Linked DNA regions of Homo sapiens. The protein of the gene in region 1 purifies or fractionates together with the protein of each later gene. This does not show direct contact. Each region holds a gene or a part of one and is shown on either strand. Other genes may lie near its edges.

What was found. Proteins that work in one complex are often made in the same cells at the same time.
Region 2: the proteins of ANXA8L1 (region 1) and GOT1 purify together in Homo sapiens (co-immunoprecipitation; one large-scale study listed by IntAct). This does not show direct contact.
Region 3: the proteins of ANXA8L1 (region 1) and SSUH2 purify together in Homo sapiens (co-immunoprecipitation; one large-scale study listed by IntAct). This does not show direct contact.

What each region holds. Positions count from the first base shown.
Region 1 is NC_000010.11:46,381,424-46,386,403, forward strand, and holds part of ANXA8L1 (annexin A8-like protein 1), read left to right. Parts: intron 1-1,155; coding exon 1,156-1,269; intron 1,270-2,032; coding exon 2,033-2,123; intron 2,124-2,782; coding exon 2,783-2,862; intron 2,863-3,350; coding exon 3,351-3,410; intron 3,411-3,956; coding exon 3,957-4,050; intron 4,051-4,288; coding exon 4,289-4,384; intron 4,385-4,980.
Region 2 is NC_000010.11:99,410,125-99,413,972, forward strand, and holds part of GOT1 (aspartate aminotransferase, cytoplasmic), read right to left. Parts: intron 1-3,848. UniProt on the Homo sapiens protein: Biosynthesis of L-glutamate from L-aspartate or L-cysteine. Important regulator of levels of glutamate, the major excitatory neurotransmitter of the vertebrate central nervous system. Acts as a scavenger of glutamate in brain neuroprotection.
Region 3 is NC_000003.12:8,631,299-8,635,146, reverse strand, and holds part of SSUH2 (protein SSUH2 homolog), read left to right. Parts: intron 1-501; coding exon of another isoform or gene 502-749; intron 750-1,151; coding exon of another isoform or gene 1,152-1,351; coding exon 1,352-1,481; intron 1,482-3,037; coding exon 3,038-3,098; intron 3,099-3,848. UniProt on the Homo sapiens protein: Plays a role in odontogenesis.

The DNA.
Region 1 (4,980 bases):
GTGTTTTATCTGGCAGATCTACTTTTAGGTGTCAGAGCCCGGGCCGGGGGCTGGCCTTCCTTGCTTCCTTTCCTGCCTCTTCTCTCACAGCATTCCTTCTCATGCACCCAACAGGCCCCACTGGAGGTCTGTCTCCCTGCCCCCAGGCTATCTCGCCCTGCCCTCTGAGCCCAGACCACCTTCTCTTTTCCATGCCCCAGGCATGCAGGCCTGGCTTTGCTCTGTTCTGGGGCGTGGGCATGCTTTCCTCAGTCGAGCTGCTTGCACCCACACCTCGTCCCTTCTGCCACCTGGGAATTCTAAGAGCCTGGAGTAAGCATGCCAGGCCCTTTGTTTCTCCTCCCACCTGCACTCCACCCCTAGGACAAAGCCTGACATTTGGGGGTACACAGTAAACACAGGATTAAATATGTGCACAGCCATGGTTGCCTCAAGCCTCTAGTGACTCATATCATTAGTTTGGAGATGTAACGAAGGAAGATCAGCTCAAATATTCTCTTGGAGAACCCAGTATGCATTTTTACAGTTTCCCTCTCTTAGTCCTCACAGTGATACATTCTTTGTATTCAAACATTTGGGGAAACTGGCACTCAGAGAGGTTTTAAGTTGCCCAAGGTCCCAGAGCCTGTAATCAACAAGGTGGGGATTAAAATCCAGGTCTGACAAAGCCCTTGATCTCTCTGCTGCTCTGTAGATCAGCTGATGTAGCCTGGTGGCTCCTCGTAGCAACATGTGACCTTAGAAGGAGGCACATGTGAGACGAAGTCTTTAATTCAGGCATGCATTCATTCATTGAGTGCCAAGTGACAGGTATTTTATGGTGATGCCATACTCAGAGCTTGCAGTCTAGCTAGCAATACCAATTTCATTTTACTGAGAGCTTATGATGTGCCCAGCACTGCACTGAATGCTGAATTGAGTCACACACAACCCCCTAAGCAACGGGATGAAGCAGGAGCACGTTTCTCTCCGTGTAACCGGTAAAGATACTGATGCTAAGAGAAGCTAAGGAGCTGGCCCAAGAAACCCAGCCAGCACGTGGCAAGGCCCATGCAGAATCCAGCCCAAGCCCCTGGACCCAGCCACCACTCCGCTGCCTGCACTCAGGTGGGCCTGGCTTATGACAAATATCACCTTTCCCTGTTCCCGCATTAGGACCTCACTGAGACCTTGAAGTCTGAGCTCAGTGGCAAGTTTGAGAGGCTCATTGTGGCCCTTATGTATCCGCCATACAGATACGAAGCCAAGGAGCTGCATGACGCCATGAAGGTAACCAGGCAGACAGGGCAGGGGAGTGGCAGGGGTGCTCACATGACTGGGTAGGGGCAATGCGGGGACCGGGAACCTACAGCCCAGAGCTCCCCTTGAGCCACTGTTTGGAATGGCCATATGGGCCATAACTGGGCCCAGTGAGCAGGCAGCCTGCTGCTCAGACTGCACCCAACACCTGGAGTCACTGGTGCCTGATTGACACGTTGAGTGGCCGTGATGAAGCCAAAATCAGTACTTCTCAGAACCTCACGAGCTCAGGTGTACAGTGGTATTGGAAACCCACCTCTACAGTCCCAGGCACAGCCCCTTGGGTTTCCCTTTACCTCTCACTACTCTTTGCTTTTGCAGATTAATAAGGATGGGGACCCAGTAACTATAGTCATTTTGTTTGGAAAGACACTTGCTGCATGGGCACTGCCAGGCATTTTACACCCACGCTCCCTAATCTATCTTTGGCGCAGGGGAGGCTTCTTATTCCTGTTTATGGATCGGGATGCTTAGGCTCCAGGACATGGAGCAGCCTGTCTGAGACCACCCAGCTAAGGAGGGAGAGCTGAGACAGGGCTTCCCCGTCACAGCACTTGCCCTCAATGTTCATCACTGAAGACAAGCATGTGATTTTCTCATCACATCCTCCCACTTCAAGTGGGGCAGGGCAGTGAGGTCCTTCCTGAGGCTCAGGCATCTTGAGAAAAGAAGGTGTGGACAGAGCAGAAGGTCATGGCAGAGCACTCCAGCAGGCAGAGGTTTCTGTCCACAGGGCTTAGGAACCAAGGAGGGTGTCATCATTGAGATCCTGGCCTCTCGGACCAAGAACCAGCTGCGGGAGATAATGAAGGCGTATGAGGAAGGTAAGGGGTGGCACAGATGGAGGGGCTCAGGAGTGGCCACAAGCTTTGGCAGCCTGGCAGGGAACAAGGATCAAGAATTAACCTGGGCCACACTAGAAAGGACCCTTTGGGGACTTTTTTACCCACAGGTGCTGAGCACCTACCGTATGCCAAGATCTGTGCCTGATGGTGACACTGAACATGATTCAGACTTGATCTGTAAGCTCACCAGCTCCTCTTACAGGGGAGAGAGGCCTGTGACCAACTAAAATCTCTGCCCTTGAGGACTGTGGTAGTAGGGGGTGTGGACCCCAGGCTAGCAGAGGCCAGTCAGTCCTCCACATCATGTACCTAGTGGGGAGTTTTCCTGGAGGCTTTGGCTTTGCCAAGCCTTGAGATGAAATGGAGCTTGGTTGGCAGCCCCTAGCCTGGCTCTCTGACCTGGTCCATCTTGTGCTTTGAGCTTGGTTGGGTACGCATGTCGCTTCTAGTTGTGAAGCACCACCCAGGCGACAGCCACTTGGACACCCGGGCATTGCATCCATGCCCTGTGCCAAGGACTTTCTTTCCTAGAAGGCTTTAATAAGGAGAAGTATGGGGAACAGGGCTGGAAGGAGGAAAGCAGGCCCCGGGTAGGCTGTGGGCCTCTGCTTGTGCCTCATGGTCCTGTTTCCCTGCAGACTATGGGTCCAGCCTGGAGGAGGACATCCAAGCAGACACAAGTGGCTACCTGGAGAGGATCCTGGTGTGCCTCCTGCAGGTGTCACAGCCTAGGCTCTTGGGAGTGCCTTGGTTTGGGAGTCCCAACAGCTCCACCCCAGGGAGCAGCCCTTGAATAGCGCCACAAGAGTCAGGGTATGGGCATGGGATAGCCCAGCAGCCAGGGCTCATTGGGTGTGTCTCAGCATGGTTAGAGGGTCCCAACTGCAGAGCCCCCACACTTGTCCTTACTCAGCCATGTGAGAGCATCCTGGAAGCGGGAGGAGAGCAGGTCCTTCGTGCAGACCTCATGCCAGGCACTTTGCTTACCTTAGCTCACTGAATCCGCCAAGCCTTATGAGGCAGTCCTTACCACCCCCGTTGTACAAATGAGGAAACCAAGGGCTGAAGAGAATAACTGGCTTGTCGAAGTTTCCACAGCCAAAGAGCAGCAGAGCCATGCCTACCCTCCAAGCCCAGGATCCCCCCTGTGCCCTTAATGCTCTGGTCAGCTGGCCTGCCTTACAGAGCCACCTCCTCTGTTCCTAGGGCAGCAGGGATGATGTGAGCAGCTTTGTGGACCCGGCACTGGCCCTCCAAGACGCACAGGTGAGGCTGCGCCCAGCCGGCCATGTGGCCCCACCCCCTGCCATCTGGACTCCGGCTCCTCTGCCCACGGGGGCTTTCTCTGACACTGGGCTGGGACCCACCCAGCTCAGCTCCCTATAGGCCTTTGTCCTGTGGTGTCTGGGGAGGAGAGTGAGGGTGTTGGGAGACTCGGGAGGAAGGAGTGTGACTTGGGGGTGGGGGAGCACTAAAGCTCTGTCCTGGCAGGAACAGCCCATGAACCCGGGGGCGCTAGGCCCCAGTGCTGGACACAGGTGTCCGGGTCTCTGTAGGTCTGCCTGCTGGCAGAGGGAAGTCTGGGGACCAGGCAGTTCCTAGAGCAGCTTGTGGCCCAGGATAGAGAAAATATTCTAAGCCAGAGCTGCTAGAGAAAGGGGAGCTCCCTGTCAGAGACGACCAAGCAGGGGAGCATGCTGGCCTGGCAGAGTGGACAGGGCCAGGCCATGGCCACAGCTCTGGGACTCTGGGGCTCAGTCCCTCACCTCCCTGGTCTCCCTCACTGGCTTATTGTGGGTGTCCCAATGCTAGGATCTGTATGCGGCAGGCGAGAAGATTCGTGGGACTGATGAGATGAAATTCATCACCATCCTGTGCACGCGCAGTGCCACTCACCTGCTGAGAGGTACCAGGGAGGGAGGGGCTGGGGCCGGGGCCACAGGGGTGTCCTGGCCATGAGCCTCTCCCTCGTGCTTCTGCCTTGTCAAGTCTAGAGTTAGGGAGAGAGCCAGGGAGCCCAGGACTGTTTCCCCAGCCACCAGTGGGAGGTCAGGGCGGCAAATTGATGTGCGATCTCTGATCCGAGACACTGAGGGGCATCACGAGGAGGTCTGACCATCCCCTGAGCAGAGCCCTCTCCACAGTGTTTGAAGAGTATGAGAAAATTGCCAACAAGAGCATTGAGGACAGCATCAAGAGTGAGACCCATGGCTCACTGGAGGAGGCCATGCTCACTGTGGGTAAGAGCTCAGACTTGCACGTTTTTCAGGCCACAGGGCTCACCGTGGGGCAGCACCAAAGAACAAAGGGCCTAGGGATGCGACCACAAGAGAAAGAATCCCTGTGTCACCTTCACGGGATGTCCCCCCGACTCACACTCTGCCTGTCTCCCTCACCCAGGGACTGCTCCACCTCTAGAGTCCCAGTGTGTGCTGCCAAAGATTGTTCTCTGTGCTGCCCACGTGGTGCCCAGTGCTGTGTGGGTGTGTCTGCATGAGTGTGTGTGTGCGTGAGAGTGTGTGTGCCTGAGGGTGTGTGTGCATGACTGTGGGTGGAATGTGAGTGTGTGTGTGTGAGACAGACAGTGTGTGTGTGTGCGCACACAAATGCATACGCCAGTGATTATGCCAGCCCCAACCCTGTGTGTACTCATGGCAGCCATGCAGGGAGCACTCTGGCTGTGGTTGTGAAGCCCTGGCCAGCACAAAGTCATCTTTCTGGACATGAACCAGGGGCCTGGCCCCTGCCTTCATTGCCAGTTGAAGAAACAGTGATGTGTGGCTTGAGTCCAAACTGAGTGACGGATGGTCTGATGCTGAGAAACACTGGGGATCTT
Region 2 (3,848 bases), about 53 Mb from region 1:
CATCCCTTGCTATTACTTTAAAAGTTTTGCCCCCACATTGTGGTTTACCTGAATTCTTTATGCAAATTGCTACCAAGATGATATAACACAAATGTGCATTTATTTTTTATGGATTTGTCATCCAGCTAAGTTGAATGTCAGTTTCATACATGACTTCACATTGCAGATACCTAAGCCACTCTAGAGTGCTAATACTTCCTAAGCAAATGAGCAAGACCTCCCTTGAACATGGTTTTAACTTCTGGAAACACGATAGATGCATAGATACCAGTGGAAACATTCCCAGGCATAATTTTTCATTTCCTGTTCTCAACTTTTCACTCCACCCTTTCTCTCCCACTACAGAAAGCAAATTCATTTTTTTAAAAATCAGTAGAATACATTAAAAATGTGCTTAGAAGAGATAAACCCACTCCACATTAACTAATCCTTGACATTCATGACATATATGACACTTGAAATATCAAATTCTCAAGAAGTTATCACTCCCTAAAAATCTATTAAATACTGGATGGCTTCAGTGAAACACAAGTTGCTCTAAACATCAGCAACTAACAGAAACAAGTTTTTGGTGAATCAATAATATAGCAATGTGGTCATTCTGTGAACTGATTTTTGGCAAATTGTCCTACAGCCTAAGAATGTCCTGTACTTGTTATAAAGGAAAATCATAACATCAAAGGAAGTAAGTACAGACTTCTCAAGGAGCCAGGCAACTGGACCTGGGTAAACAAGAGTATCCAGAACAAGGGAAATCCAGGAAGACTTGGTATGAAGCTAGATAGAGCAGGCCTCTGTTGGACATGTCAGCATAAGATTGCTGGATTCTAGAACCCTTGTCTGAGATAACAATTTGCCGATACTATGACTTCACCATGAGGAATAGGAGAGCAACCAGGAGCTGCCTGTGGCCAGAGCCATGCTGCATTCATCTGGGTGCCCCCAGCATCTCTCACGGCATCTGGCACATGGTACTACATAAGCATGTGCTGAACTAGATGAAGAAAGAAGACAGTGGTGAAAAGATCTGAGCCACAGCAGAAGCCCCAAGTCGCCTAGAGGCAATCAAAGCGAGAGTGGGATGTCATGATGTGACAATGAGTTATGACCCATGAGCCCTCCTTCCTACAATGCTCAGTAATCTCAAAGCTGAAACAGCACTATGCCAGAGATGAAAAATCGACATTTCTGTCTGGATCCTAAGATCTGAAAGTGGAAAAGTAATACAAGGCAGTGAGGAGTCTAGAAAATAGGTCTCCTCAAAATGGGTAAAGGATCTGGAAATGTTGAATCTGGAGAAGAAAAATCTAAGGGAAGAAACAATTACTGTTGGTTTACTTGTTCACTCATTCTTTCATTTATGTCTCGTCTTTAAGTTTTGGCTCAAATGTCATTTCTATTTCTATCATAACCACCCTAGTTAAAACTGTATCCACTCCTAGAATTCCTAACATGCCACCTCCTGCTCCATTTTTATAGCATTTATCATCTTTAGTATACTACATCATTTTCTTACTGATATAGTCAAAAAGATTACATTTAGAGTCTGTTCCTCTCCCCGAAACTGAATGCAAGGGCAGGGGATTCTGTGTGTTTGAGTCACTGCTGTGCTCCAGCATCTAGAACAGTGCCTGGCTCTAGTAGTGGGCATCTGATGACTAAAGGAATGAATGAATCCAAACCTTTGGAACCTGAGGTACCCGGATAGGAGCCAAATGCTGAAAATCTGCAAGGTAAATAAGCAATGATCACTCTCCTGGGGAAAGTTAGGGCCTTGTGGGAGATGAAGACTTATAAAATTATCCATTATAGTAAGAACAGTTAAGTACTGTTATTCCCAAGCTGTGAACAAAGTCCTGTGATAACTCAGAGAGCTTAAACAACAAGCTCTGCCTAAAATACCTAAGGATTCAGTGTGGAAGTGACCCTTGATCAGCTCTTGAAGGACTTAGAGGTGGGGACTGGACAGCTAGAGCAATAAGGGAGGGCATTCCAAATGGAGAGAAGGGCCAGGCAAAGGTTCTTAGTCTTGACAGGGCCCAGTAGGTCTAGAGAACAGCAAGACTCTTAGAATGTCAGGACCTCTAGTGGAGTGAGGGGAAATCAGCAACTGTAAGAACAGGATGAAGACTGTCACCTGTCACCTACTTTCACTGCATGCCAAGCTCAAAGTCTGGATTTTACCCTACAGGCAATGGGGGAGCTATGGGCGGTGGGGGTGGGGAGTGGGAACAGGTGACATGAGTAGCTTGTTTTGCCAAGGAAGGTCATCCTAGCTGCAGCATGCAGAATGTACTAAAACAGGGAAGAGACTAGAGGCAGGAAGGTAAATTAAGAGGCTATTAGTGAACTAAGACAGCAGCCTGGGAATGGTGAGGCCTTCCAAGCAGAAGAAAGGCTCAGAGCTCGAACAAAAGGCAGCAGAAACCTCTGCAGACTTAAATGTCCCTGTCTGACAGCTTTGAAGAGAGTAGTGGTTCTCTCAGCACGGAGTTTCAGATCTAAGAACGGACAGCCTGCCTCCTCAAGTGGGTCCCTGACCCCTGAGTAGCCTAACTGGGAGGCACCCCCCAGTAGGGGCAGACTGATACCTCACATGGCCGGGTACCCCTCTGAGACGAAACTTCCAGAGGAACGATCAGGCAGCAACATTTGCTGTTCACCAATATTCCCCGTTCTGCAGCCTCCGCTGCTGATACCCAGGCAAACAAGGTCTGGAGTGGACCGCCAGCAAACTCCAACAGATCTGCAGCTGAGGGTCCTGACTGTTAAAAGGATAACTAACAAACAGAAAGGACATCCACACCAAAAACCCATCTGTACATCATCAGAGACCAAAGGTAGATAAAACCACAAAGATGGGGAAAAAACAGAGCAGAAAAACTGAAAATTCTAAAAATCAGAGTGCCTCTCCTCCTACAAAGGAATGCAGCTCCTCACCAGCAACGGAACAAAGCTGGATGGAGAATGACTTTGACGAGTTGAGAGAAGAAGGCTTCAGAAGATCAAACTTCTCTGAGCTAAAGGAGGAAGTTCGAACCCATCGCAAAGAAGTTAAAAACCTTGAAAAAAGATTAGACGAATGGCTAACTAGAATAACCAATGCAGAGAAGTACTTAAAGGACCTGATGGAGCTGAAAACCATGGCACGAGAACTACATGACGAATGCACAAGCTTCAGTAGCCGATTCGATCAACTGGAAGAAAGGGTATCAGTGATGGAAGATCAAATGAATGAAATGAAGTGAGAAGAGAAGTTTAGAGAAAAAAGAATAAAAAGAAACGAACAAAGCCTCCAAGAAATATGCGACTATGTGAAAAGACCAAATCTACATCTGATTGGTGTACCTGAAAGTGACGGGGAGAATGGAACCAAGTTGGAAAACACTCTGCAGGATATTATCCAGGAGAAGTTCCCCAACCTAGCAAGGCAGGCCAACATTCAAATTCAGGAAATACAGAGAATGCCATGAAGATACTCCTCAAAAACAGCAACTCCAAGACACATAATTGTCAGATTCACCAAAGTTGAAATGAAGGAAAAAATGTTAAAGGCAGCCAGAAAGAAAGGTCGGGTTACCCACAAAGGGAAGCCCGTCACACTAACAGCTGATCTCTCAGCAGAAACTCTACAAGCCAGAAGAGAGTGGGGGCCAATATTCAACATTCTTAAAGAAAAGAATTTTCAACCCAGAATTTCATATCCAGCCAAACTAAGCTTCATAAGTGAAGGAGAAATAAAATCCTTTACAGACAAGCAAATGCTGAGAGATTTTGTCACCACGAGGCCTGCCCTACAAGAGCTCCTGAAGGAAGCACTAAATATGGAAAGGAACAACCGGTACCAG
Region 3 (3,848 bases), on another chromosome or scaffold:
GATTTACATTTTACCAAGCTCTTCAGGTGGTTTGGCAACAAAGCCAGCGTTGAAAACCATAGTCTAGATCAGGGTTGCAAACTCCTGTCTGTGGGCCAAATCCAGTCCACTGCACATTTCTGGAGTAAAGTTTTATTGGAACACAGTTACACTCAATTGGCTGTGTATTGTCTCTGGCAGCTTTTACTCCAGAGCTGAGTAATTGAGACAGAGACTATGTGGGCTACGAAACCTCAAATATCACTATGTGGCCCTTTGCAGAAGTTTGCTGACCCTGGTCTAGATCCGCGGAAAGGCCCATATCCACCTTGTTTTGAGAGGACTCAGGGCCGAGCTCAGGGTTTCCAGCCAGCTTTGTGCGGAGAGAAGGTGGAGCTGCCCCCTATTTCAATCCAGCCTCTCACCTGGGCAGCATGAGAGGCTTCTCCCGGGGGCTTCTGGCCCTGCTGCTGCCAGAAGCAACCCCCTTCTCCTCCATGGACACCCACTTTCCATGCTTAGGAAGAACCCTGCTTCCTCCGGGGAGTCATCTCTGGCCTCTCCAGCCCACAGTGTCTCTTGTGCTGCCATCCATGGATCTGAAGACAGACGGGCCCCTCTGTGTGCCAGGGCTGGAGGATGCTGGAGATACAAGTGTGCAGAATTGTGGATTAATGGCTCTCAGGGCTGCCATGGAGAAATGCATGAAGATGCAAGGGGAGGAAGGAGGATTCTTTCCTCTTGGAGGTGTTGGGGCCAGAAAGACTTCAGTAAGGGGGTGGCATGGCCTCAGGGAAGGGACTTCCAGGAGGAGGGGGAGGCATGCAGAAAGAGGGCCGAGGTTAGGGTCCCTGTCTGTCGTCCCACCCACGGTCCTCAGGGTGAGTCTCCATGGGCGCTGCCATCAGCCCTGGGCCAGTGCCTGGCTGGGGTCTTCCCATCATGTTGCTAGCAGCTCCTCTGGCTAAGGTCAAGGTACCCGAGGGCAGGAGCCTTATTTAGCCTGTCTCTGCCTCCTTTTAACTGTGCGACATCCTCTCTGGACCTCTGTTTTTCTTATCTATAAAATGGTACAATTCCTCTCTAAGGTTGTGTTTCTTCAGTTGCAGGATTCTATCAGCTTTTCTCCTAAGCTCCACATTTCAACTAAAGTGTTTTTGGCTGTTCTCTAGGAAAACCTGCCCCGTTCTCACGCTGGGCACCCGTTCACATGGTCCCCTTTGCAGGAGATGCCCTCCCCAGTTGGACTGCTGAGGGCTTTACCACTACCGTGGCCTCAGTTTCTCGCCTGCACGTTGAGGAGGCTGGCTGGCCCGCGTGAGTCCACAGGCCCTTCCCAGAAGCCCCCGCCTCTCTGTTCGGTCCCCTGCAGAGTCCCTGCGATGACGGAGGAGGTGGCCCGGGAAGCCCTCCTCAGCTTTGTGGACTCTAAGTGCTGCTACAGCAGCACGGTGGCTGGAGACCTCGTCATCCAGGAGCTGAAGCGGCAGACCCTCTGCAGGGTGAGAGGCCAGGGCCGGTGGGGGGCCTTGGCCGGGGGGCTGGGGAGCTGGGGGCTTTGGGACAGTGGAGGCCTGTTTGTGTGATGTGGCCAGGGGAAAGGAGTCCTGGGGGCAGTGTGTTTGAGTGTGAGCGGTGGTGATGTTGAATCCCATCTGCAACTTGACTTGTCTGTGGCTGTGAGTGATAATAAAAAGAACAAGTGTCAGGCCGGGTGCGGCGGCTCATGCCTGTAATCCCAGCACTTTGGGAGGCCGAGGTGGGTGGATCACCTGAGGTCAGGATCACCTGAGGTGAGTCAGGTTAGACCAGCCTGACTAACATGGTGAAACCCCATCTGTACTAAAAATACAAAAATTAGCCGGGCGTGGTGGTGGGTGCCTGTAGTTCCAGCTACTCGGGAGGCTGAGGCAGGACAATTGCTTGAAACTGGGAGGCGGAGGTTGTGGTGAGCTGAGATGGTGCCATTGCACTCCAGCCTGGGCAACAAGAACGAAACTCCAACTCAAAAAAAAAAAAAAAAAAGGCGTCATCAAACACCACTGACAGGCTTGAACATGCCAGGCATCATAGAACGCATGCTACACACACGCCTTGTCAAATCCTCATGGCTGCCCTATACGGTAGCATCACTGTCACTGGTTTACAGACGAGAAATTGGAAATTTAAAGAGGCAAAGTGATTTTCCCAAGAAGATGCAGCTAGAAGTGACAGAGGTGAGATTCAAACTCAGATTTGGTAGCCTCAAAGCCTATGTCCTCACTTCATACTTCCACAAGGCATGGGCTGAGAGAGGTTCATCTACCTGCCACTAGACTTCAGCTCCCTCTGCCTCCCCCAGATCATGACTGTGCCAAGAAATTCTTTATTCATTGCTGCAGGGAAGTCCTGCCTCTGACAGGCACTTCTGTCTCCTGTATTGACAGAGCAGAGGAGCAGCTTTTACAGTCACATTTTCTAGTGCTGCTCATCCAGCCACCCTCTGAGGAGCACATAATCACTTGCAGGCAGTGGTTAGAGCAGGAATCTGAAAGAAGAGGCCACTGTGTGGCTGTGTGACCTTGGGCAAGTCAGCTGACCTCTCTGAGCCTCCATTTCCTCACATGTAAAAGGAGAGGGCAAGTGATGTCCAAGACCTCTTCCCATTCTGTCACCCTATGGATGAAGATCAAGAAGGAAGATCTTGATATCAGGGAGATAAATTCCTCCATAAGGGAAATCTCAAAGCCATAGATTCCAGGGACCTCCATCTATCAAAGACAGCTACTGCTCTGAAGCTTGTCTCATAGAATCTTTGTATAAATTCATGGGGAACTGAATTAGCTCTAGTTTGAGCCTGTCAGGGGAGATTTCCTGGGGCTGGCTGACTTCCCTGCAGACATGGGGGCACGTGGAACAGAAATCGCTGTTGTCAGCCAGTTCCAGCAGCCGAGGGTGTTGTGCATGGACCTCTCAGTTTCCCCACTGAGCCCTGGGAGGGTAACAGCTTCATCTTTTTGCATAATGCTCTGTCTTCATAAGGGGCACGAGTGTGAACATGCTGTTTTTTTCCTTTTAGTACCGTCTGGAGACCTTTAGTGAATCCAGGATAAGCGAGTGGACATTTCAACCCTTTACTAGTAAGTGAATTGTCTGAAATTAGTTTAACTGGGGGCAAATAAGTCAGGGTGCTGGTGGAAAATATCAGGACTTGGCTCAGGCACTCATCTCAAATAAGATGGTCTTCTGCTTGGAGCCTTGGCTTCCTTACCCCCTGCAAAATGAGAGGATGGACTTTCATCTCAGAGACTTTCCAGTGCTTATCTTAGGAAATGCTTCCTGCCCAGGAAGCAGGAGGTCCTGAAAAAGCCAAGCATTTGCTTTTGCTACAGTCTGGTGCTGCCACACGGGGCCGGGCTGTAAAGCAGCATGCGTGTCTAAGCATTCACCTACACCCCCTCATGCCACCCCTAATTCCTCCTAAGCTTCTAGGCCCCTGTGCTCCCCATTCGCCTTGCCACCCCACCTTCTGCTGAGCCCCCACTGGAGGCCTAAGCTTCTCTCTTTGGGAAGATCTATGTCCTCCTTGTTTTCCCTAACAGACCGCTCAGGTCCATTCTTCAAGACTCAGCTCACGTGTCACTTCTTTTAAGAAGCTTTTCAGGATTTCTCCTCCTGCTGCTCCCCTCCCAGCAGGATGGGCCAGTCTTCTGAGTTTTCAGAGCCCTTTATGCAACTCTTGTCCAAAGCATGTATCATATCCTATCATATCTTATTGTGATGGTGTGCTGTCTGTCTCCTTGAACAGAGCAAGAGGAAGAAGATGGGATGGTGAAGGGGATGGTGATGATAATGGTGACAATTCTTGTGTGTCATCCCCTCAGTATGTG